Homo sapiens: one gene and its partners. The protein of the gene in region 4 purifies or fractionates together with the protein of the main gene of each other region. This does not show direct contact. Each region holds a gene or a part of one and is shown on either strand. Other genes may lie near its edges. The genes, in order: CR2, NRP2, GNA11, SLC44A1, LARGE1, ENPEP and AGPAT3.

Evidence for each region.
Region 1: the proteins of SLC44A1 (region 4) and CR2 purify together in Homo sapiens (affinity purification with mass spectrometry; one large-scale study listed by BioGRID and IntAct). This does not show direct contact.
Region 2: the proteins of SLC44A1 (region 4) and NRP2 purify together in Homo sapiens (affinity purification with mass spectrometry; one large-scale study listed by BioGRID and IntAct). This does not show direct contact.
Region 3: the proteins of SLC44A1 (region 4) and GNA11 purify together in Homo sapiens (affinity purification with mass spectrometry; one large-scale study listed by BioGRID and IntAct). This does not show direct contact.
Region 5: the proteins of SLC44A1 (region 4) and LARGE1 purify together in Homo sapiens (affinity purification with mass spectrometry; one large-scale study listed by BioGRID and IntAct). This does not show direct contact.
Region 6: the proteins of SLC44A1 (region 4) and ENPEP purify together in Homo sapiens (affinity purification with mass spectrometry; one large-scale study listed by BioGRID and IntAct). This does not show direct contact.
Region 7: the proteins of SLC44A1 (region 4) and AGPAT3 purify together in Homo sapiens (affinity purification with mass spectrometry; one large-scale study listed by BioGRID and IntAct). This does not show direct contact.

The regions. Positions count from the first base shown.
Region 1 is NC_000001.11:207,464,328-207,467,827, reverse strand, and holds part of CR2 (complement receptor type 2 isoform 1 precursor), read right to left. Parts: intron 1,303-3,500; coding exon 916-1,302; intron 1-915. UniProt on the Homo sapiens protein: Serves as a receptor for various ligands including complement component CD3d, HNRNPU OR IFNA1. When C3d is bound to antigens, attaches to C3d on B-cell surface and thereby facilitates the recognition and uptake of antigens by B-cells.
Region 2 is NC_000002.12:205,720,501-205,724,000, reverse strand, and holds part of NRP2 (neuropilin-2 isoform 2 precursor), read right to left. Parts: intron 1,524-3,500; coding exon 1,293-1,523; intron 217-1,292; coding exon 61-216; intron 1-60.
Region 3 is NC_000019.10:3,114,862-3,118,361, reverse strand, and holds part of GNA11 (guanine nucleotide-binding protein subunit alpha-11), read right to left. Parts: intron 3,419-3,500; coding exon 3,290-3,418; intron 1-3,289. UniProt on the Homo sapiens protein: Guanine nucleotide-binding proteins (G proteins) function as transducers downstream of G protein-coupled receptors (GPCRs) in numerous signaling cascades.
Region 4 is NC_000009.12:105,384,151-105,387,650, forward strand, and holds part of SLC44A1 (choline transporter-like protein 1), read left to right. Parts: intron 1-1,271; coding exon 1,272-1,352; coding exon of another isoform or gene 1,353-1,562; intron 1,563-3,500.
Region 5 is NC_000022.11:33,276,977-33,280,476, forward strand, and holds part of LARGE1 (xylosyl- and glucuronyltransferase LARGE1), read right to left. Parts: intron 280-3,500; coding exon 84-279; intron 1-83. UniProt on the Homo sapiens protein: Bifunctional glycosyltransferase with both alpha-1,3-xylosyltransferase and beta-1,3-glucuronyltransferase activities involved in the maturation of alpha-dystroglycan (DAG1) by glycosylation leading to DAG1 binding to laminin G-like domain-containing extracellular proteins with high affinity.
Region 6 is NC_000004.12:110,549,155-110,552,654, reverse strand, and holds part of ENPEP (glutamyl aminopeptidase), read right to left. Parts: intron 3,310-3,500; coding exon 3,236-3,309; intron 3,128-3,235; coding exon 3,023-3,127; intron 2,940-3,022; coding exon 2,769-2,939; intron 1-2,768. UniProt on the Homo sapiens protein: Regulates central hypertension through its calcium-modulated preference to cleave N-terminal acidic residues from peptides such as angiotensin II.
Region 7 is NC_000021.9:43,871,723-43,875,222, reverse strand, and holds part of AGPAT3 (1-acyl-sn-glycerol-3-phosphate acyltransferase gamma), read right to left. Parts: intron 1-3,500. UniProt on the Homo sapiens protein: Converts 1-acyl-sn-glycerol-3-phosphate (lysophosphatidic acid or LPA) into 1,2-diacyl-sn-glycerol-3-phosphate (phosphatidic acid or PA) by incorporating an acyl moiety at the sn-2 position of the glycerol backbone.

The DNA of each region.
Region 1 (3,500 bases), on a different chromosome or scaffold from region 4:
CTACTTAGCGACATGTATACGATATCCTTCCATGTCCATACATATATGTCTGTCTAAATTGTTACAAAGGCTTAACTGTTTTCAGCAGCCATTGCCCTTTGTAACTATCGTTAAGATCTCCTTCCTCCAAGGCTATTTATCAATCAATCAATCAATAAACAGAATCCCATTTTATACTAATTTAACAGTTTTGTCAGCTCTTTAATCTGCTTAAAATTTGTCAATATTGTTCTTTATTAAGAAAATACCTAATTTGATAGTATAATTTTTGTCAAATATTGCCATTTCTTGTAATTGTGGAATTCAAATTCAGATTTATATTTCAGCAGCAACATAAACCAAACCAAAAGAGAAGGAATGAATAATTTACAGTAGGTCCCTATTTTCAAAGGCATTTATTTGAAATGTGATGGCTCAGAAGATGACTTGGGGAAATAGTGGATAACTTCAAAACATGTTTACAGAGACCACAGAGAGCAGGATATCACCTGTGCTAGACTGTGTTAGCAGCTACTTATACATTAATTTCAAATCCATTGGGTGTATTTTTGCTATAAGATCCCACCGTTCTTCTCATTTTAACAGTAACACAGATATACAGTTGAAAACCACCCCATTCCCACATCCCCAACAAACTCTGACCCCATCCTTGCAAAACTTACCCTACTCAATTATTAGGTGTGTTTAATTACATTTTTCCATGTACTTTAAACTCCTTTGCTCAATTGATGTTTTTTGAACGAGCAGTTATATGCCTCCACGAAGAAGCCATAACTTTCACCTTTTCCCTTGTTTCCTTCTTCCACCCTCATCATTACATGTTCACACTGTTTGTCCTTCAGGAGGGTACAAAACGTGGTCTGCACAGAAAGGCAAGACCCCAACCTCCCAACCCAGCTTTCTTTTCATACTCACCACTTACACAGGTTGGTAGTCGTGTCGGCCCCCACATATTATTTGCTTGACACCAAACAGACTTGTTTCCGTTCATGGAGAAGTTGGTTTTACAGGCAAATGTCACAGAATCACCATGTCTGTAGGGTGTAGAGCCTCTAATTTTGTATCCTCCTGGTACTATGGGCTCAGGGCAAGAAGAATATTTATTGAAATATTCACATTTAGGAGCAGGTTTATCCCAGGTTCCATCCACTTTGTCTTTAGTTATGCATAATAGACTTTTTTCTCCAATGAGGCGGAAGGTACCTGAACAACTGTACCTTATCACGGTACCAACAGCAATGGGGGTAGAATAATAACTAATCCGGCCATTTAGGATAGGCGGAGGAGAGCCACAAGAAATCCCTGAAAAGTAGAAAAGGAACTTGGTAGGCATACTGATCATGGTGAGAAAATATTCAAATGTAGGTAAAATATCCAAATATAGATCACATAACTTTTTCAGAAACAGACTTAGAAATATGTATAGTTTATTTATTCCCTGCTTACTCCCAAACTCCTAAATTCTTACCTTTTTCTTGATCCTCAGCAAACAGATCAACATAAATCATCTTGACCAAACAATAATAATGAAAAGAATATATCCAAAAGTTCTGAGTCTAATCAATTTTAATAATGAAACAAAAGGCAAATTCAGCACATGAAAATAACATATTAGTGGCATGATAGTTACATGTGGGGAGGTACCATGGATTAGGGAAATTTGAGCTCAGTGGACCTAGTTTCAACTCCCCACGGTCATTCAATAGCTGTGTGACCTCAGGCAAGTCTTACTCTCTTTAAGCTTCAGTTTCTTAGTCTATAGTATAACGCAAACTACTTCATAAGGTATAGTGAGAATCCAGTGCTAAAAGTACATGAACAGAGAAAGTACAATACCTGGAACATACTAATTATTCAATGGCTGCTTCAAACACACAACTGGGGGTACAGGCTGAGATGACCACTTTTGGTCCTGCTGCTGAAGATGCTAGAGCCTCAGTACAGGTGATTTGTCCTGACTTGAGGCTGGAACACTTTGAAAAAGCCACAGGAAGTGAACAGAGGTTTTGAATAATGGCCTCATATTCTTCATTTACTTGTCCTAATAACCATGAAGGATATTGTTTACATTTACTTTGTTATGCACGCCTTTTCTGAGGGAGTCTCAGAATAAAGGGAAAATTGCCAACCTCTAGAACTTTCAGTTAACTTCCCTTTGGCTCCAAGAGGAGGTCTTCAGTGAAAACTGACATAAGAAGATACAGCCAAACTGTTTCATCACATCAGTGCTATACTTGGTTTCAGTAAGGGTAACTTTCGAGAACTGTTGTCTTTATACATATAGAATCTGCAGTATAATATATACTCAACTGAATCAATTTAACATCTTTGGTCTGCATTCCAGAAGACAGAGAAGAGTGGCATATATATGTTCAAAGCACACCTATGGATAAGATGTGATAATTATATATATATATATGTATGAAAAAATCTCTAATCATTGACTTTGGTGCTATCTGCTTTTTTAAAAAAGCATCTTTTAATTTCCCCTACAATAACACAGATCTAGCACTGCCCCAAAATACAAAAGAAGAAAAAGTCCTACATCTGCAACATTTAGATATTACTTTCAAAGTTTACTTTTAAACTCTTTAACTAGGCAGGGTGTGGTGGTTCACGTCTGTAATCCCAGCACTTTGGGAGGCTGAGGCAGGTGGATCACCTGAGGTCAGGAGTTCAAGACCAGCCTGGTCAACATGGTGAAACCCCATCTCTACAAAAATACAAAAATTAGCCAGGCATGATGTTGGATGCCTGTAATCCCAGCTACTCGGGAGGCTGAGACAGGAGAATCGCTTGAACCCAGGAGGTGGAGGTTGCAGTGAGCCAAGATCACGCCATTGCACTCCAGCCTGGGCGACTGAGCGAGACTCCATCTCAAAAAAACAAAAACAGAAACACAAAACAAACAATAACAATAAAAAACTCTTTAACTAGAAAACTCAACCACATATACTATCTTCCTTCTGCTCTTTCCATAGGTACCATATATCTATTTCCCAGAAAAACCTTGTTTTATTTCTAGATCCTGAAGTTTCAGCCCAACTCACCCCTGAAGCACTTTGGCAGTAGAGGATTCTGTTTGCTGTTTAGTTGACACCATATTACATTGCTGCCTTTCAGGGTAAAACCAAGCTTACACTTAAATATCATGTATCATTTTAAAAAAATGAACATAATCCAGATTCCACAACTCCATTTTCAACTTCTATAATTGAGCATTCAAGTAAGAGTAATACACTGAAGAGGAGGGTTGCTCCAGAGCTCCAGACATCAACTTGATTATCTTTGCTGGTGCAATGCATTGACTTCTCATCCAAGAGGTCAAACAGCTTTTCCCTATTACATCCAATATGGCACTGATGATTTCATAGCAAACCCCTCTCCCTGCTGCTGCTGTCAAAGTCCCATGGGGGATGGCTGGGAGTGACTTACAAGGAATACCTTTTTAAGGAGTAGGTGGGGAAAGAGAGAATATTATACTTTCTGAGAATTTTCTC
Region 2 (3,500 bases), on a different chromosome or scaffold from region 4:
TGTACACCCTCACAGCCCTGACGGAAGGACAGGACAGAGGTTCCCAATCGGCCAACTCACTCTCTAGTGGCTCTTGGTGGACCAGGTAGTAACGCGCAGAGAAGCCATCCTTGGCCACCGCCATGTCCGTGTGAAAGGTCAGGGAGAGGATCCCCGTCGATGAACGAAGTTCAGAGGGTGTTTTGGTCCCACAGTACTTGCCAATCAGGGGGCCAACTGGACATTCAAGACAAAGAGAAGTCAGTGGAAATCAAAATGTCAAACTTGGTTTTCACTCCGTTTTCCCTTCCCCTCATTGCATTTCATTCAGTGGAGCACACTTTGTACATCTTGCCATAAAAACCAAAGATATGTTTCAAGAACAATGGCTAATATTTTTCCTGCACATCAAAAAGCACTTTCACTTTTTCATTAAAAAGGTACAGGCCACTTTCACTGGCTTCATTCTGTTCTCAGTGGCCTGGAAGATGAGCTGGAAAGGTATCATTACAATGTCTGTTCTACAGAGGAAGAAACTGAAGTTTGGAGAGCGCATGTGATTTCTTTATTCTTACTGCTAGGAAATAGCAGAGCTGGGCCTACAACCCAAGTTTTCTGACTAAGTCTTGTGATTTACCCAGGAAATGAAATTGCTCTTTTTGCTTAGTCATCAAGTCTCCTTTATATTAGAAAAAACTTACAATGACTACAAAAGTGAAAGATTTGTTCCTCTCCAATACTAATTAGACCCAAGATCCATGTTGGTCTTCACCTGCGAAGTACTGGTGGCTGTTAGCCTTGGGTGATGTACCTTTTCAATATTTATGACTATATTAATGACAATTTTAAAATTATAGTAATAATGATGATGATAGCAGCTAACTTAACACAGATAAGGCACAGATAGGGTAAGGGATTTGTCTAAGGTTGCACAGCTGGGGAGTAGCAGAGCCGGGAGTTAAGCCCGGCCAGTCTGGCTCTGGAGTCCTTCTGTTTTGTCACAGGGGTTAGCCACTGAGCCACCTTCTATCCTGACAATTTGGAGTAGAAATGAACACTTTAAGTTTTCTCATCCTTTCCAAGTATCTATTTAGTCTCCTATCCTTTTCTAAAGAAATATTTCCAAGAAAGTAGACAGCCTTCCTGTAATTTCTCTCAAGCTATCCTTAGTGAAGGGGAAGAAGAGAAAGTCACCATGGGTCATATAAGAACTCATAGGAGCTTTGAAGTCTTTGTTCTTCCTCTTTATCATCACTAAAGCAATTAACAGGCAAAGGCCAAGCTACTGAGGAATGCCTCATGACATCACTCACCATGTGGAATGCCATCCCAGATGTCCAGCCAATCGTACTTGCAGTCCCCCTCTCCCACCTGCAAAGGGTCATGCTCCAGGTCAAAGATCAGGAACTGCAGGATGATCTCCATCTTGGGTTTGGCCAGGATGGTAAAGGTGCAGTCCAAGTTGTGTGGATACTTCTCAGGAAACCCAGGAGATTCGATGGTCCCGTTGGGGCTTGTGAAGTTTTTTGAGCAATCTTCAGAGCCTGTATGTAAAAGAGAACTGTAGCACTAAGAAGAAGATGCCTTTCTTTGTGGCCTCTGTCACATGGGTTATTTAAATGTTTGGCCCCAAATCCCCCTGCTCTTGAGGTTTTTGTTGCTACTGGAGTGGCCCTTGAAGCAACATACTCTTCACATGCACGTTTCAAGCCCTCATAAATTAGGGAGGCACAGCTGGCTTGCTCTACATAATTATTAGAGTGAGAGCAGCAATTGAGGAATTGGGGAGTGGGGTGGAGGTACAGAGAAGTGTGTGTGTGTGTGTGTGTGTGTGTGTGTGTGTGTGTGTATGAGAGAGAGAGAGAGAGAGAGAGAGGGATTCTCTTGAAAAGAGGAACAGAGTCTTCTTTCTCAATTACTCAGCTGCTCACTCCAGAAATGTAAGTTATTTCAATCCTTAAGGAAGCCTTGCTGATTGCCAGCAGGGAAAACAATGTTACCCCTTATTTGTTGCTGACCTCAACACTAGCCCCTATTGTACCACAGCCAACGAAGTGCCCCCTTCTCCCTCCAAGATCCAAGGTGCCTCAGGGGAGGGGCAAAGGGGAGCTTGGGTCTCATTCATGTCATGACTATATTAAAACGAGCTGCTCTGTAGTGGTCGGACAATTAACAATCGATGTTTTTAGCTGGTGGATCACAGCAGGCCGTTGGGGATGTTAAAGGCCGCTCCGGCAACAAGTTTGGAAAAATGCAGCAGTGCATTGACATTTGGAAGGCTTCTGGCTCCTTTGTGGTGTGGATGGCCTTGTTTCTCTCCTGAGCTCTTGCGTCTGCTTTCTTGGGACGCATGGAGGCATCCTGATTAAATGCGGCACACATTCGCATCCTGGTGCGAGCTTGGATGGCAGCAGGAGCAGGAACAGGAGCTCATAAGAGGATTACAGCCACCCTATCTCTTAATGCCTCTAGGTGGAGTCATATTAAAAGGGTCCTTGTGCTTTAACCAGCCACCATTTGCCAGGGCAGCACCACAGATGGGTCCCGGGAGCACTGCAACCCAGACCCATGGACCCACGAAGCACGAGCTCATGCACATTCACGCAATGAATGAAAGTGCTGGACAATTAGAATTGATTTCACTCGTTATGTTCAGATTTTAAAAGAAGAAAAGGAAGCAGGATTTTTGAGGAGGATAATAGACACTCTAAGCATAAAAAACACAACCAACCAGAAATACTCGATAAACTGGGTGTTTACTGTCAGGAAGTGTCCTCTGGGGCTCACACTGAAATATAACTAGGTGATGTCAATACACTGATCTGAGCCTGCAGCGATGCCTTTATCCGCAGCTCCTGTAGGGGGCCTCTCATTGAGTCTCTTTATTGATGACAGCATTCTGGAAAGAGGCAAATGTCTGATTTGGAAGAAGTGCCATGCAAATAAATGCGGATGGAGGAGTTGCAACTTTCTTCAGCACCAGACAGAAAATTCCAGTATCTCCTACCTATCCATCCATCACTTCCTACTTTCCACCTTGTGCTGTGCTTTGGCAGGGTAGGGACTAGGAACACACGAGGGCAAGGGCTAACCTTTGCATGGGTTCTGTGGAGGCTCTAAGCAGCGAATCTCAGAGGCTCTGCACCCCATCATTCATATGCATGGCAGCAGCAGGTCAGGCCGAGTTTTCAATGGGCAGCTAGTCCTGGAGGGATGAGCTGGGGCTGCCTCCCCCAGCTTTGTTTATGATTGGGCTTCGGACTCCTGAGGGCCTCCTCAATGGCCCGGGATGAGGCAATTCAGCAAAGCCAAGCCAGCTGGCGGGTCTTCAGGGGGCCAAGAGGAATTTTGAAAAGGTTAGAGTTTATGGCTGCTGTGCAGCATTCTTCATGCGGGCCACTCAGCTGAGCCTCACACATGGTTGTGAGGAAATTAACTCTCTATTCACTTCTTGCTTGAGAGCTAGAAAGAGCATCCTGACATGCCCTCTTAGAGCTTGCTCTATTGTCATTCCCTTAGAA
Region 3 (3,500 bases), on a different chromosome or scaffold from region 4:
AGGCCACGCACAGGCGGGAGAAAGAAAATCAGCTCAGACGATGTCTGCGGGCGTGCGTTCCTTACGGGACGTTTGCCTCTTTCTACTTGTGACTTTTCTAAGTTTTCTATAACGAGAAAAGGCACTTTGGTCTCCTTGAAAGAATACAAAGGCAGAAGCGGAGAGTGCCCCTCAGGCCCTGGCCCCAGGCCCCAGGGAAGGCCGGGGTCCCTGCAACTCTGCCGAGGAGAGCGGGGCTGCTTTGGGCATGTGAGTGGTGAAATCCACCTGGTCTGGTCTGCGGGGGAGTCCAGCAGGCACCGGTGGATGACAGATGTGCCAGGTGACTCTAAGGGACAAGAGGGCCCGCACCAGCAGCTGTGGCCAGGCGGGAGGACAGTGGGTGTGCCGACACCAGGCCACAGCCCGTCTGGAGCGCGAGGCCTCTCCTGCACGCCTGCGGCGGCCGGCAGGGCTGGGATCCGGGTCCCCCCGTGTCTTGTCCCCACCTGAGGGAGCAGGAGCCTCTCCTCACGCACTGGGACGATCCCACCGGCCTTCAAGGCCTCCAGCTGCATCCCACAGCACCTGGCCGGCCCTCTGCCAGCGTGTGGTGGACAGAGGCGGCTGGCAGAGAAACAATGGTGGCAGAGGAGTAGGCTCAGGACGGGGGTCTGCACCCGGCACAGAGGGCACAGCCGGGCCGGGCGCGGTGGCTCACGCCTGTAATCCCAGCACTTTGGGAGGCCGAGGCAGGCGGATCACGAGGTCAGGAGGTCGAGACCATCCTGGCTAACATGGTGAAACCACATCTCTACTAAAAAGTACAAAAAATTAGCCAGGCGTGGTGGCGGGCGTCTATAGTCCCAGCTACTCGGGAGGCTGAGGCAGGAGAATGGCGTGAACCCGGGAGGCGGAGCTTGCAGTGAGCCCAGATTGCACAGCTGCACTCCAGCCTGGGCGACAGAGCAAGACTCCGTCTCAAAAAAAAGAAAAGGGCACAGCTGGAGCTGGGAAGGGCCTGGAAGATGGTGGAGAGGGGGTGACACACCCAGCCTGAGCTCAGCTCAGGGAGGGGACAGGACATTTCTGACAGAGGACACAGAGGCCTGCGCTGTTAAGAGGCCAGCGTGGGGCTGTGAGGGGACATTCATGCCACAACCTGGCCTATGCCTGGCTCGCCTCAGCTGTATCCTGGGGTCATGGGCCCCGTGTGAATAAAAAAGAAGAAAAACTTGAATTCTCGTAACAATATACACCATCGCCCATGTCCAGAGAGGACACCGCAGCTTCTGAGGGCCCAGCGCCTGCTCGGGTCCCCGGGAACCATCCCAGAGCTTGGCATTCCTTGGCTTGTGGCCACATTGCTCCATCCCTGCCTCCATCTTCACGCCGCATCCTCCCTGCCTGCGCTGGGAGGCCGAGCTGGGAGGACGGGTGGGGAGAACAGGCAGATGGCAGGGGGTGGCACCCCCAGCCCTGGGGTGGGTCTCAAGGCAGGGCTCTCGAGGAAAACCCCACAGACTTCCCGGAACCCTCACAATGGCCTCGGCAGTGCACCAGCTGGGTGGGGACACCCTGGCAGGGAGGCGTCATTCCCTCATGAGGGCCAGTGCCAGGGCGAGCTTGCACTGCAGGAGAAGGCACCCGCAACCGGAGCCACCGCGAGGCCCTCCAGGACAGAGCCGTCTAGCGCCCCACACGCACGAACACCAGAACCCGGGGACGGCTCTGATCTGGAAACAGGGTCTGTGCGGATGTCACTGGTTAGGATAACGTCACACAGAGGTAGGGTGGCCCTGGCCAAGGACAGGTTATAAGAGAACAGAGGCAAAGGCGCAGGCGGGGAGGACGCTGCATGAGGATGGGGGCAGGGATGAGGCAACCCGGCCACAAGCCAAGGATGCCAAGGATGCCAAGGATGCCAAGGATGCGGCCGCCACTAGGAGCCGAGTGAGGCCTGGGCAGATCCCCTCAGCCTCAGAAGGACCTGGCCCGGCCCACACCTGCATCTCAGCCTTCTGGCCTCCAGCACTGGGCGGGAATAAGGCCTGCGGTGGGAGTCTCACGCCCGACACCAGCAGCCCAGGACAGGCACGCATAAAGCCGGGACCTCAGCGCTGGAGATGTTATATGGGGCCAGGAGACAGGCAGGCAGGGTCCACGTTCCCAGGGACAGCAGAGTCCAGCCAGCTGAGCAGCCTACCAGACACAGGACCCACTGAGGGTCCCCAGGGAGAACCCGGCTCTGCTGGCCGGCCCCCAGCCACAGTGGACCTGGAGCCCCGGAGGCCCAGCAGGATCCGCAGGGGCAGCCCGTGAAGAACAGAATCCACCCCACACCACCCAGCTCCTCCACCCCAGCCTGGAGCCCTCCTCCCCACTCAGTCCCTATGACCCCTCCTCCCCTCAAAGCCTCGGTCCCCACGACCCCTCCTCCCCTCACAGCCTCGGTCCCCATGACCCCTCTTCCCTGACAGCCTCGGCCCCTATGACCCCTCCTCCCCTCACAGCCTCAGTCCCTATGACCCCTCCTCCCCACTCAGTCCCTATGACCCCTCCTCCACTCACAGCCTCGGTCCCCGTGACCCCCCCCCTCCCCTCACAGCCTCGGTCCCTATGACCCCTCCTCCCCTCACAGCCTCGGTCCCCATGAGCCCCCTCCCCTGGCAGCCTCAGTCCCTATGACCCCTCCCGCACCATGCGGCACCCCCTGCTCCGGCCAGCACTCCAGACCCCAGCCCCATGCTGGCTCCAACCAGGCCCCCGGCCCGTCCTGGAGGCCCTGTCAAATGTCCTCCCTGCCAGGTCTCTTCGGCTGCCGGTCTGGATGGATGTGGCCACGCCCCCCACACCCCCACAGCTCCTTCCCTGTGTGGCCCTGGCTCACACATACTTAGAGATAAATCTTATCCCCTGACCTGGTCAAACACACACTGAGGATGAAGACCAATGGGCTTTCTTTTGTTTAATAAGACGAAACAGGGTCTCCCTCTGTCGCCCAGGCTGGAGTCCAGTGGTGCCATCATGGCTCACTTCAGCCTCAACCTCCTGGGCTTGAGCGATCCTCCTGCCTCAGCCTCCTGAGTAGCTGGGACCACAGGTGCACACAACCACGCCCAGCTAATTTTTAAAATTTTTTTTAGATATGAGGTCTGGCTATGTTGCCCAGGGTGGTCTCAAACTCCTGGACTCAGGCGATCCTCCCGCCTTGGCCTCCCAAAGCACTGGGTGCGCAGGCATGAGCCGGCACACCGGGCAAATGAGCCTCTCAGTGCCCCCTCCCCGCCTGCTGTGGCCCGGGCGGTACCGGAAGATGATGTTCTCCAGGTCGAAAGGGTACTCGATGATGCCGGTGGTGGGCACGCGGACCCGCAGCACGTCCTGCTGGGTGGGCAGGTAGCCCAAGGTGGCGATGCGGTCAACGTCGGTCAGGTAGCTGCAACACAGCGGTGGGTGCTCAGGCCGGCTGCCGGGGGTGGGGGGGCAGGACAGGGACACAGCACCCAAACCAGCGGGAG
Region 4 (3,500 bases):
AATCTAAAATAAGTGTATTAATAAATAAGCTAGATTTTTTTTTTTTTCTTTTTGAGACGGAGTCTTGCTTTGTCACCCAGACTGCAGTGCAGTGGCATGGTCTTGGCTCTGCAACCTCTACCTCCCAGGTTCAAGCAGTTCTCCCTCAGCCTCCCAAATAGCTGGGATTACATGCATGTGCCACCACTCCTGGCTAATTTTTGTATTTTTAGTAGAGATGGGGTTTTACCATGTTGGCCAGGCCGGTCTTGAACTCCTGTCCTCAGGTGATCTGCCTGCCTCGGCCTTCCAAAATGCTGGGATTACAGGTGTGAGCCTCCATGCCCAGCCTAGATTTTTTTTTTCTTTTCAATAGCAAGAATTCCAAATGATTTAGCTGACCTATTTGGCACTGATTTTCTCTTTTTCTGGCAACATCAGCTAAATTCTGGACATTTTCTTAATGTCTAAACTAATTCTAACTGGTTATTTTCTTAATGGAATTTGATCATGATTATTGTATCTCTTTTGTGACTAAAGCATTTAGAAGAGTGTTACTGTTTTTTAAGTCACTGATCAAAAGCAGAGTAAAAAATAACTGTTTTCCACCCTTCAGTTTTCTCTGTAGGAATGGTGAGGATATTTAATGAAGAAGTTCCCCGTAAACGTTGACAGAATAGAAATGTTCCCTTTGGGCACATTCCCATTTCGACTACTACTAACCATAGGTTCTGGTTGATACACCCTGTCTTCCTGCTTCATGAAGTAATGTCATGGTCAGATTGACACTTTTTTTAAAAAGAGTAGTTTGTTTATGGTTTGGTTAAGAAAAAAAGCATTATGTGCTTAGCAGTATCAATGTGTTCTTTTACCTTCTATGGTTATTTAAAAGTGGAGGCTTATGGAGTAACGTGTTCTTGTTGTTTCATTTAACCTTGATATAGAAAAAAACAACAACAACAAATAAAATGATATTCTGAGTATGAGAAAATAGCCTCTTAAAAATGTTAGGTATTTTCTCTTCCAGGTAGAACTAACATTATCTCTTGGAGCCTTAGTAAGATTGTCACAATGAATGGATGGAAAGAAGATTTTTTTAATCAGCGAATTGCAGAGTCCATTTCTACAAATTTAGCAACTCTCATGTGTGATACTAAACATTATTTATTGCTATGTTTTTAAGCCATCCATTTACCAAGATTGAGTCAAAAATGTAGATGTTCTTTAGAATTCATCTACTAACAAATCTGAAAGGACCCAAGAATTTATTCAATATGGTCCATATTTTGCAGGAGTTTGTGGAAAACAGTAGGAAAGCAATGAAAGAAGCTGGTAAGGGAGGCGTCGCTGATTCCAGAGAGCTAAAGCCGATGGTAGGTGGAGATGAGGAGGTGGCCGCCCTCCAAGAATTTCACTTTCACTTCCTCTCTCTCTCTGTCTTCACTGACTGCACTTCTTCAGGAGAAGCTTTTGTTATCTGTATCACGCAGGACATGCTGCTCTTTCTGTTTGTGTGCTTACCCATCACTTGGATGGCAGAATTCTTGTCACAACTGAGACCACCTTCTATAAAAGTAAGCTGAAAGGAACAGCATCCTCGTCAGTGCTCGGCAGGGGCGGGTAGGGGATGATGGTTTTTTCCCTAAGGTAAAACTGCTGTTGCTCTTGTTTCCTTTTTAACTGTCAGTGTTTGGCTTTCATCAGACTGAACATTTTGGTGTACACTTGAACTGACGGTTTGATTTTTATCATTTTGGAAGGTGATCATAGCAATTCCTTTCAACTTGCTAAAATTCATACTCCCCCTTTTAAAAGTATGGTTCTGCTTACATTGCTGTCCTTTTCCCTTGGCTGACTTTTTCTTCTGTTGCCTAGGTTGTACTTTCTTTGTTTCTTAAGCTATTTTTCAGTAGCAAACAAGGCTGTTTTCATCAATACCCACATTCCCACTCAGTAAGACAATCTAGTCTTCTCCCAGTTTAATTGTGAGATGGATAAATTATTTCTGGTAGTTGATATTATATATGTATATGTACACAAATATATCTCTCTACTCCACTTTTATTTGAAAAAAGCAGCTTAATGAGTGTAAGAGAACCTTGAGCTGCTTTTCACATGGATATTGTCACTATAGCATAGAAACAGATGCCTCTATCATATATTGGTCTAATTACTTCCTAATTTAAACACGTATTTTTTTAAATAGCATGTTTATTTTCAAATATTATATAATTGTCTGCATCCTTAAATAATTTTAAACAATGTGTCCCCTGACTGCATATAATGTTCAAAAGTGTGAGGTAAGGACTTTCCTTTCTGTCTTCTTTACACTTTAGTAAATGATTTGATTTATAGCAAGTTTGTCCAACTTGCTGCCTGTGGGCCGCATATGGCTTAGGAAGGCTTTCAACACAAATTCGTAAACTTTATTAAAACATGAGATTTTTTGCCTTTTTTTTTTTAAGCCCATCAGCTATCCTTAATGTATTTTATATGTGGCCCAAGACAATTCTTCTTCCAGGATGGCCTGGGGAAGCCAAAAGATTGGATACCCCTGATTTGTAGGTTTTCAACTTTAAAATATATGCTATAAAATAAGTTCATTTAAGTAGGCTAGGCATGGTGGCTCATGTCTGTAATCCTAGCACTTTGGGAGGCCGAGGCAGGTGGATTGCCTGAGCTCAGCAGTTTGAGACCAGCCTGGGCAAAACGGTGAAACCCTGTCTCTACTAAAATACCAAAAAAAAAAAAAAAAAAAAATTAGCTGGGCATGGCGGCGTGTGCCTATAATCCGAGTTACTTGGGAGGCTGAAGCAGGAGAATTGCTTGAACCTGGGAGGCAGAGGTTGCAGTGAGCCAAGATGGCGCCATTGCATTCCAGCCTGGGCGACAGAGCGAGACTCCATCTCAAAAAAAAAAAAAAAAAAAAAAATATATATATATATGATATAAAATAAGCTCATTTAATTAAGAGTAAAGGAAATAGGTTTATTTTTGGAGGGAGGCAGGGAGGCTATATGTATATTCAAACTAATCGCATATTCAACCTAAGTTAAAGCCTCAATAAAATATTTAGATATAAAACCTTTCCTCTGTAACCCTTTCCAGTGCCTATTTTGGTGTTACTCTTACTTAATAGCATGAATAATTATAAAATCAAATTTAAATGTTTAGAATCCCAGAGCACAGATCACTCTAGTACCCACATAGCTCTGAATTTTAAGTTTGCATCACCTAGACATGATTGCTTGGGCAGATGGAGGCACACCAGTAATCTTCCCATCAGGTTCCATGCCTGCCCTCCACACCTTTCTGTATCCCTCTTATTTCACAAAAGCTGAGGAGGGCAGCAGTGGAGATTCTGCCAACCCTATGGCAACATGGAGAAATGAGGAAGGCTTCCTTCCTTCTACTGCTTGGAGGTCCTAATTGTTCAGCAAATCGATTCTAAGCCCAAAACTTAACAAGACATATGAAATCTTAAAATATAAACCAAGCTTTTCCCCCTTTTCTGTCTTTCT
Region 5 (3,500 bases), on a different chromosome or scaffold from region 4:
CTTGTCTCCAAGGATCCCTTAAGCTCTAGGATCTAGGCCTCTCCCCCGTCGACCATACCAGGTGGATGCTCCGTTCTTCTCACCTGCACATCCAGCTCCATGATATGAGCCACTTTGTTCCAGCCAAAGCCTACAAACCTCCGGTCGTACTCCGGGCAGTCACGTCTCACAACAACATACGGCTCAAAATCGGCCTCCCACTCAACCCGGTAAGGCGTGGTGGCGGTCCGCCACTTGGCGAAGTTTGTGGGTGCGTGGCCTTTCGTCCAGACGTGGTACCTGAGACACACGGAGAAAAGCCATTGGGTGTAGGGAAGGAAGCCAAGCTCTCCAAATGCAGCCGATGTGGAGGAAGAAGGGGTGTACACTGATGTAGTCCTCGGGTGAGTTGAACTGTCTCCCTCCCAAAAGCTATGTTGAAGTCCTAACCCCCAGTACCTGTGAATGGGACCTATTTGGAATCAGGATCTTTGCAGATATAATGAGGTTATCATGAGATCACAGTGGATTGGGGTGGCACTAATCCAATATTTGTTGTCCTTATAAGAAGGGGAAAATTTAGACACAGAGACACACAGCAAGAATACCATGTATAGACATTGGGAGAGATTGGATGACGGGTGCATCTATAAATCAAAGATTGCTAAACACTGCTGGCAATCACCAGACGGAGGCCTAGGACCTCAGGGAAGAAGCATGGACCTGCTGACAGCTTGATCTTGGACTTCCGGCCTCCAGAATTGTGAGAGAATAAATTTCTATTATGTTAAGCCATCCAGTTTGTAGTATTTTGCTGCAGCAGCTGCAGGAAACCCTAATCCCATCTGCTATCTGCACATTTCACTAACGAGGAGATTCTCACTATGAAAAGGAACTCCTGGAGGGCTCCATGTCATTTCTCAGGAATTGACTGCAGGTGAGCTTGTGTAGTGATTGCTGCCAGACTGTGGTAGGAGTATCAGACGGTCCCCCATGACTCTCACCCTGTCCAATGCTCTCCCCTTGAGGCAGAACCTGTGAGTATGTATGTGATCACTCCTGGGATTATGGTACATTATATGGCAGAAGGGATTGTTCTAGATATAAATAAGGTTACTCACCACTTTACTTTGTGTGAAAATGGGAGATGATTGAATCATGTGACCCTTTAGACCTGGGTCTGGAAGAAAGCAAGGAGCTATGTTGGGAGCTGCCTATGGGGGCCATGTGGCAAATTAACTAGACTCTAGGAGAGCAGTCCCTGGCCAAAAGCCAGCAGGAAAATGGGACCTTAGGCCTAGGAACGAAAGGAGAGAAATTCTGCTAACCACCAGTGATCTGGGAAGAGGAGAAATGCAGGTCTGCTGACTCCTTGATTTCAGCCCAGTGAGATCCCAAGCAGAGAATCCAGTCATTCCATGCCTGAATCTCTGATCCCTAGAGACTGTGAGATCACAAATTTGTTTCAAGCTGCTATGTTTGTGGTAATTTGTTATACAGTAGTAGCAAATGAATACAATCATATAACCACAATAAGAAGCAGCTAATATTAGTTAACCACTTACTGTGTACTGGGACTATTTTAAATCTCTCTCTCTCACACACACACACACACACACACACACACACACACGCAGATATTGTTTTAAATTCTTATAACTTACCAAATGTCAAAGTACAAGTAGTCAGTGGTGGAGTTGTGATTCAAACCCGGGAAGCCTTGCTCAAAGGCCAGGAGCCTCCTTAAGCACTTCACCTCTCTTTTTTTATTTTTTTATTTTTTGGGATGGAGTCTCGCTCTGTCTCCAGGCTGGAGTGCAGTGGCACGATCTTGGCTCACTGCAACCTCTGCCTCCCCGGTTCAAGCGATTCTCCTGCCTCAGCCTCCCAAGTGGCTAGGACTACAGGCACGCATCACCACGCCTGGCTAATTTTTGTATTTTTAGTAGACACGGGGTTTCACCATGTTGGCCAGGATGGTCTCCATCTCTTGACCTCATGATCCGCCCGTCTTGGCCTCCCACAGTGCTGGGATTACAGGCATGAGCCACCACGGCCGGCTGGGTCACCTCTCTTATATGTCCCTGTCCCCCACACTTCCTGGCCTGTTGAACGAGTACTCAACAATTGTGCACTAAACTGAATGAATGAATGAGTAACCTAACAACATGAGAGGCACCTGAGACAGGTCCATGTGTGAGATGGCAATATGCCTCTAGAAGCTACAGAGAGACGGCAGGAAGCTGGGCATCTAGTGAAGGACTAGACAGGGCCCAAGAGAAGAGTTAGGAAGAGTATCCAGAGCTGGAAAGAAAAGCTTCATGAAATGAAAACAAGACAGAAGGGTGGGAACCCAAGAGCATAGCTGCAGGGAGAGAGGAAGTGGAAGTCTGGGTTCCATCTCATCCTGTGGGCAGTCTCTCCAAAGCAAGGGAGGCGCTAAGTGAGACTGAGTGTTCCGTGTGGCCAATGGGACACTTTCTGGCAGGGAATGCAACTGCTTCCTTCTTTTGCTTTTCTACCACTGAGGCTGGACTCCCCCCAAACCCTCAGGGAACTGGCCAGTGCAGCTGAATGGGCACTGGCCAATGGGTGGGCTTTGATCAAGTTGTGCTGTTGGGTGAGACAGCCAGGCTAGGGGAGGGCAGGAACTTGAACTTCAGCTCCATCAACACAGCAACTTCCATCAAAACCAAAGCCACTTAAATGGAAGAAAAATGAAAGGTGAAGCAATGCCATTTTCATGGAGTGTGGAAAAGGGATATTGCGGGAGATGTCAATTTCGGGCATGATCCAACAATTAGGCCCAGAAGCAGTTGCTTTTCCATTTGTGAACTTGCTGAATGGGCAGTCTTAACACCTGATGCCTTCAACAGAACTGGCACAGCACAGCTGATGGCCGTGAACTTGTATGAGGTTTTAAAGCACAATGGAGCCATCAGGCCAGGGTTCAAATCCCACCTCTGCCACTTAGGAGCTGAATGCCTTGCAGAACAAAATGCTTTAATTAGCCGTTAATTTCCTTTTGTGTCAACTGGGGAAAAGAATACCTATCTGGTTGAACTGCCAAAGAGCTTAAGTGAGAAAATATAAAGAGTCTGGCGCAGTATTGACATCTAAGAGGAATTCAATAAATGCTAGTTTTATAACAAAGTGGTTAAAAGCAATGGTTCTGGAGGCTGCCTGCCTGGGTTCCAATTCTGTCATTCAACAGGTATGGGTACATTAACTACTTGGCACCTTTGTTTCCTTCTCTTGGCAAAACGGACACAGCAATATCTACTTCATAGATTTATGATGATTATGTGACTTAATTCACATACAGTACTCAGAGTAGTTTCTGATATATGGTAACTCCTCAAAAAAAAAAAAAAAAAAAAAGAGAAAGAGAAAATTCTCTTTATTATTTCTCCTTGTTTGCTTCCCAGATATGATGTCAATTCCTGGTGGTCTTGCTCTCAGTGATATTGACAGCCATGTTATTGGTCATCCACCTTTAGAATCTAAACTCTCAGAAAATT
Region 6 (3,500 bases), on a different chromosome or scaffold from region 4:
AAAAGGTCAGCACACATTTTGTTCACTGTGACAAGGGAACCTCAAAAATAGATGTCTACTACTGATAGATTAGATGTATTTTCATGTTACTCAAGTCTTGCTGCCCCATGGCATCCTACCCATTGGCTTAATTCATTTATATCTTTAGGAAGATATTGAGATAATAACTACAACAAAGGGATCACTGTTCAACTTGAGTTGTGAGCCTTTGAGAGTCAGCCTTTGTCAAACAGAAAAGGTATTTCTAAATTATGTATGCTTTTATTAATATATCAAGACCCTTAGCATACTTGAAGTAGAAATTTACCCTAAATGAGACTGGAGAAAACTCAAGCTTAAATAAAGTCCATGCCACATGTGAAACTGGAAAACACAACCCCTTAAGAACAGGTCTATAGTTCAGCATGTACTTTTGTGCTATGCCAAAATGGCATGGGAGAGTGACAGTACATCGTAGGCAAGGTGAGGTGAATATATGACTGAGTTTAAGGTAATGATCCTGGTTCCTTCGACTTGTGGGTCCTGTTTATGGGAAGCTATCAGTTTCTTCAGCCTAGCAATAAGAGGCAGGGACACTGGAAGACCTGATGGGAAAACAAAAATACCATACATACAGCACAGGTACTTCATGAACAGAAGCAAGTGACTGGGACCACTGCTTTCATCTCTGGATGACAGATAGTGCACCAGAAGGTAAAATATGATCAATGAAAACTCAGCAGACTCTGTCCCAGACCAAAATAGGTAAACACCTTAAGGCCAAAGCAGCAAAAATCAGAGGTCTCTTTCTCCATCACCACAAGGGTGGCATGTCTCCCTGTGCAGAAGGACCATGAGGAAGGGAAGGAACTCTAGAAGACTGAACATTTACTCCAAGAGACTATTTCAATGAGAATTCTAGTTTAACAACTCATTTAAAAACTAGACTGGCAGACAAAGATAGTCAACATCAGTTGTTCTCCCTCTCACTGGCTCATCACTCAGCAGTGTGAGAACTCTTGGGAATAATCAGATAGAAAATCAAGGTCCTACATTTTCTTTGCACTTGCAGTTGTGTGGGTAAATCTACTTTTATGAAAATACAACATATCAATCACATGTTTCAAATAAGAAAGGGATTCCAAGGAAGCTCGTACTGCAGCCTGGACTTGCTGCAGAATCTTCTTTTACTCCAGTCATTATTTGAAACTGGAAGACTCTGTAAATGGTTAAAGTAACACACTCAAATGTGAGATATGTTGCTTCCAAAATTTAAAAAAAGTTTACTAAGTCCACTAAAATAATCTTTTTCTGTGGCATGTCAGTCAAGGTGCAACAAATTTCTTTTCCTTTGGAGGGAATGTTGTGATATGCTTTAAACTATTGAACTTCCAGAAATTGCACTAAAGTCGTGGGATCCTGAATTTATTTCATCCCCTAGTTCACAAGGTTCTTACTAAGGCATCTAAAGTTCTTGCTAATTTTCTTACCAGATACAATCAGCACAATGCCATCAAAGTAATGAATTAGTGATGTTTTGTGAAATGTGAAAATGATCAAGTTCTTTTTTTTTTTTTTTTTTTAAATAGATACGAGGTCTCACTATGTTGCCCAGGTTGGTCTTGAACTCCTGGGCTCAAGAAAACCTCCTGCCTCGGCCTCCCAAAGTGCTGGGATTATAGGCATGAGCCACTGTGCCCAGCCAAGATGATCGAGTTCTTGATGAACTGTCATGGCAGAGAGCAGGAGAATTAATATATAGCCCTGAGGAAAGAGGCTGAAGGTATATTATTGGCTCTACCTGGTAAAAGCAAACTGCTTCTGGTCGTCCTTTTAAATTGGTATTGCATTGTAATTTACTGTTTACATTCTGCCTCTCCCATGAAGCTGTAAGTATCTCAAGGATAGATGTCATTTTTATTCATGTTTTATTCATTTTTATTTCCACAATCTATATATCTATACATAGAAAGGACACCATAAGTGTTGGTTAAATAAATGAAGTAAATAACTCAGACACTATAACTAAGCAAAAAATGAATTAAGGAAGAAGCCTGTTGATTTCAAGTATAAATGCAGAGTGGGAAATGAGTCATAGATGAGCTTTGTGCCTTCTGAGTAAAGTGTAAATGCATTTGCGGCAGACACTCCTCTTTCTCTACTCACAGAGCCCAGTTTTGCTCTGATACCATTAGATATCCTTGATCTTAGGTAAAACAGACTTCTACCCCAGTCCCAGATAATTCTAATTGGCTCAAATCAGCCAAAGGAATTCAAGTTCACCCTAGTGAGCAAAGGATCAAGTAGCAGACCCAGAGTGTGACTCACAATGATGAAGGGTGACCCAGTTCTGGATTATGAGGAGAATTGGAGACAATTGTCCTGTTGGCATAAGAGACAGAGCCTTGTCAGGAAACTCTTTTGCTCCTGTCCTACCTCCATTACACATGTTTGTGTAAAAACAAAATGTTTCAAGCTCTGGAAGTCATGAGACATCCAACATGTCGATCATTGAAAATCAGAAAGAGAAGAGCCTGGGTCCTGGGTGAAAATGTTGAGCCGCTGCACACAACTGGAAGCTACCTACCTCCAGAATGTGTTCATATGAGATTACATTTCCTTATTGTTTAGGCCAGTCTTACATGGATATTTTGTTTCTTGCAGGGAAAATAACTTTTAATGGATTTTTTTGGAAACAAAACATCATACTTTAATCAGACTCTTAAAGAGACTGTGACACATAAACTATTAAATACTATTTATATATGTGAAATAAAAGCCCAACTTACCTTGACAAAAGAGTAACGTTCTTCACTGATGCTAATCCATACAGCAGTTTTTCTTTTTCTTGAGCTAATGAAGTTTTCTGGTATTGCTCAAGAGTGTAGTTCCATGAAATCTCATTGCCAGAGTTCTGCATCCCATACCGATACACCAGAAGCCTGAGATTTACGGGAAGGCTAGAAGAAGAAACAGTGTTTCAGAGATTTCAACTACTCTTTTCTCAAATGTGTCTTCTAAGCATAACAATGTGAGTAATCACCTTACAGTCCCATTTAGCCACTGCTCAAATAACGAGGAAGCATTGTTCAAGGCTTCTCTGTCTCCCATCTTGCACGCAAACCCTAACACGGAGGAACGGAGTAACCTTAAAAAACAAACAAACACAAATCCAGGGCCTTAAGCACTTTTCAACAAGTCTTAAAACAAAAAACAAATGTTAAATGAATTTTAGTTGTTAAAAAGTGAGAATAACTTTGTGACATGGTCTCCAGCATCATTCCATCCCAGAGAATCTGCAATAGGCTTCACTTGACCTTGGAAGTATTCCTGAAATAAAAGTATTATGTACAATAAGTAACAATTTACTACATATCAGTAGTATCCCAATTATTATACTCAGCAGCCCCTGTTATAATCTGTTTTCCTACTAATTCAGAGAACTTTGCGCTTGTCCTTAGAAAAACAATGTATTTAATTTTTATCACATTGCAATTTTTTTCAATCCTGAAAATATAAAC
Region 7 (3,500 bases), on a different chromosome or scaffold from region 4:
CAGATCATGAGGTCAGAGTTCAAAACCAGCCTGGCCAATATGGTGAAACCCCTTCTCTACTAAAAATACAAAAATTACCCCAGGCGTGGTGGTGGGCGCCTGTAATTCCAGTTACTCAGGAGGCTGAGGCTGGAGAATTGCTTGAACCTGGGAGGCGGAGGTTACAGTGAGCCAAGATCGTGCCACTGCACTCCAGCTTGGGCGACTGAGTGAGACTCCATCTCAAAAACAAAGAAAAAAATACATATATGGGAGAATGTGCACAGGTTATATACAAATACGACACCATTTTATATCAGGAACTTAAGCATCCACTAATTTTGGTATCCATGGTGGGTTCTGGAACCAATCCCTAGTGGATACCGCAGAATGACTGTATTGAACAAAATAATGGCTGAAAATTTTCCAGAATTGCTGAAAGACATGATACTTTATCTTCAGAAAGTACAATGAATCCAAAACAGGATAAACAAAAAGAAATCCATGCTAGAAAGACCACAGTCAAGTTGAAAAACACCAGAAATAAAGAGACTATAAAAGCAGCCAGACAAAAAGCTTACTACTGACACAGGAAGGACAATTGAAATGACAGCTGGCTTCCTAACCGCAACTTTATAAGCCAGAAGATACATAATAGAATTCAATCCTTAAAGAAATGCCAGAGACTCAGTGCTATACAGACTATATCCCTCTGCCCATGAGGCTTTTCAGCTGAAATCATAATAAAAACAACCTAAAATCCTCAATGCCTTTGGACATAAATGCATTCATGGGTCATGGAAGAATAATAAAATTGTAAAATGCTGAACAATGAAAATATTACATATCAAAATAAACAAGACGACAGTACAGCAGAACTAAGTAGGAAAGCTACATAGACTTAAATGCTTATGACAGGACCGGGCGTGGTGGCTCATGCCTGTAATCCCAGCACTCGGGGAAGCCGAGGTGGGCGGATTGCCTGAGGTCAGGAGTTCAAGACCAGCCTGGCCAACATGGTGAAACCCTGTCTCTACTAAAAATACAATAGTTAGCCAGGCATGGTGGCACACGCCTATAATCCCAGCTACTCAGGTGGCTGAGGCAGGAGAACCACTTGAATCCGGGAGGCGGAGGTTGCAGTGAGCCGAGATCACGCCAGCCTGCGTGACAGAGGGAGACTCTGTCTCAAAAAATAATAATAAAATACTTATGACAGAAAGTTGAAAATTAAGAAACTAAGCTTAGAGAAAATAGAAAAGAAAATGTTTCAATTCAGTAACCTAGAAAGAGAACACCAGAATAAACCCAAAGAGTGTAGAAGGAAATCCTGACAATGAGCAGAAATTAGTGATACGGAAACAAAGACACAGTGGAGAAAATGAGTAAGACTGATAGCTGGTTCTTTGTGAACACTAATAAAAAAGATGAGCCTCTGTGAGATGAATCTAGAAAAGAAAGGTAAAACCATTTTAGGAATGAAAAGGGTGATTTACTGTCAGATATAGTAGAGATTTAAAAATTAAGAAAATATTCTGACCTTTGTATCAAGAAACTGACAACTTGGGCTGGGCGCAGTGGCTCACGCCTGTAATCCCAGCATTTTAGAAGGCCAAGGTGGGAGGATCACCTGAGGTCAGGAGTTCGAGACCAGCCTGGCCAACATGGTGAAACCCCGTCTCTACTGAAAATGCAAAAATTAGCCAGGCGTGGTGGTGCGCGCCTGTAATCCCAGCTACTCGGGAGGCTGAGGCAGGAGAATCGCTTGAACCCGGGAGGCAGAGGATGCAGAAGCCCTGTGTTCTCCTTCCAGGTACTAGAGCCGGAGTCCTCAGGGCACATGGGTTTTGCTGGTGCGCGTGCTTTACCTTGATGAAGTCAGGTGCTGCATACACTTCTGCGGCTCACTCCTTCCACCCAGCGTTATCCTCCGGAGGCGCACACATGTTGCGGCCTGGAGGAGCTCCTTCCTTCCCCTTTCCATGGCGAATGTAGCACGAGGTTATTTTTCATTTTATTTGGAGACAGGCATTGAGAGAGCTCCCGGGGTCTGACTCCAACACCCATGCCACTATGAGCACCTCAGCATGTCCCCCGGGAAGCACACGGCAGGTGCACCCGCCACTCGATGCCATCTCCCTGCAGCTCCTGCCATTCCCAAAGCAGCCACGCTGGCACCAGTGCTCTGTCTGCCCCCACATCTTCTCCAGCACTTGTCCCCACAGTCTTTTAAGTTTCGCCGTCCCGGCAGGGGGAGGCCGCAGCTCTCTGTGGTTTTGTTTCTGCGTCTTCCCGGTGACCCATGACAGTGGATCTTCCATCTCTCCAGCTCCTTGCTTTTGGGTCACTTTGTTTGTATTTCTCACACCAGGCCTCCTCTGCTTCAAGGAGGCAGAGTGGGACGATTCAGAACTAAACGGCCACTGTTTGTACCCACACCGGAAGGCAGCATGGTAGAAGCATTTCCCTAAAATCAGGAACAGGACAAGGATGGCCTGTCACACTTCCATACAGCCCTGCTCAGGAGGGCCTGGCCCAGGCAGCAAAACAGGAAGGAAAAATACGAAAGATATAAGGAAGAAACAGAGTCTTCACCACTCCCACATGACGTGAATGTCTACTGAGAAAATCCCCAAAATCTACAAATAAATTTTAAGCAATGGCAAGGTGATCAGCTGTTAAATCAATACCCAAAAGTCAACTGCATTTCTACAGAACACCAGCAAAGACTTAGAAATCAATAAAAATAAAAAACACCATTTACGGCCGGCGCGGTGGCTCACGCCTGTAATTCCAACACTTTGGGAGGCCGAGGTGGGTGGATCACTTGAGGTCAGGAGTTCGAGACCAGCCTGGCCAACATGGTGAAACCCTGTCTCTACTAAAAATACAAAAATTAGCTAGGCATGGTGGCGTATGCCTGTAATCTCAGCTACTCGGGAGGCTGAAGCAGGAAAATCACTTGAACCCGGGAGGCAGAGGTTGCAGTGAACTGAGATCCTGCCACTGCACTCCAGCCTGGGTGACAGAGCAAGATTTTGTCTCAAAAGAAAAAAAAAAAAAAACACCATTTACAAAAGCAAGAACAATAATAAGGGCACCTGGGAATAAATGTAAGCACAGAGTGTCAGGTGGAATGTGAAATACCACGGTGCTTTATCAAAAGACACCTCGGAAGACCTGCACAGTCAACTCTAGAGAGATAAAGGGCTTAAGCAGAGAAAGCAAACTTTACAACTTCTACAGAAAAATACAGAATACATTTGTGACCCAAGAATTGGGAAGAACTTAAAGTAACATGCAAAAGGCACTACCTAGAAAAGAAGGATGGATAAAATTATACATTACATTAAAACTATCTTTTCACCAAAACAAAAAAAGTGAAAAGATAAAACCCAACTGGGAAAAATATATAATGCACACATTACAGCCAAAGATGAACATCCTGAATCTATAAGGAAATATATAATATGGAAACTATATATAAGGAATAGGTGAGAAAAAGACATCACCCAAAAGAA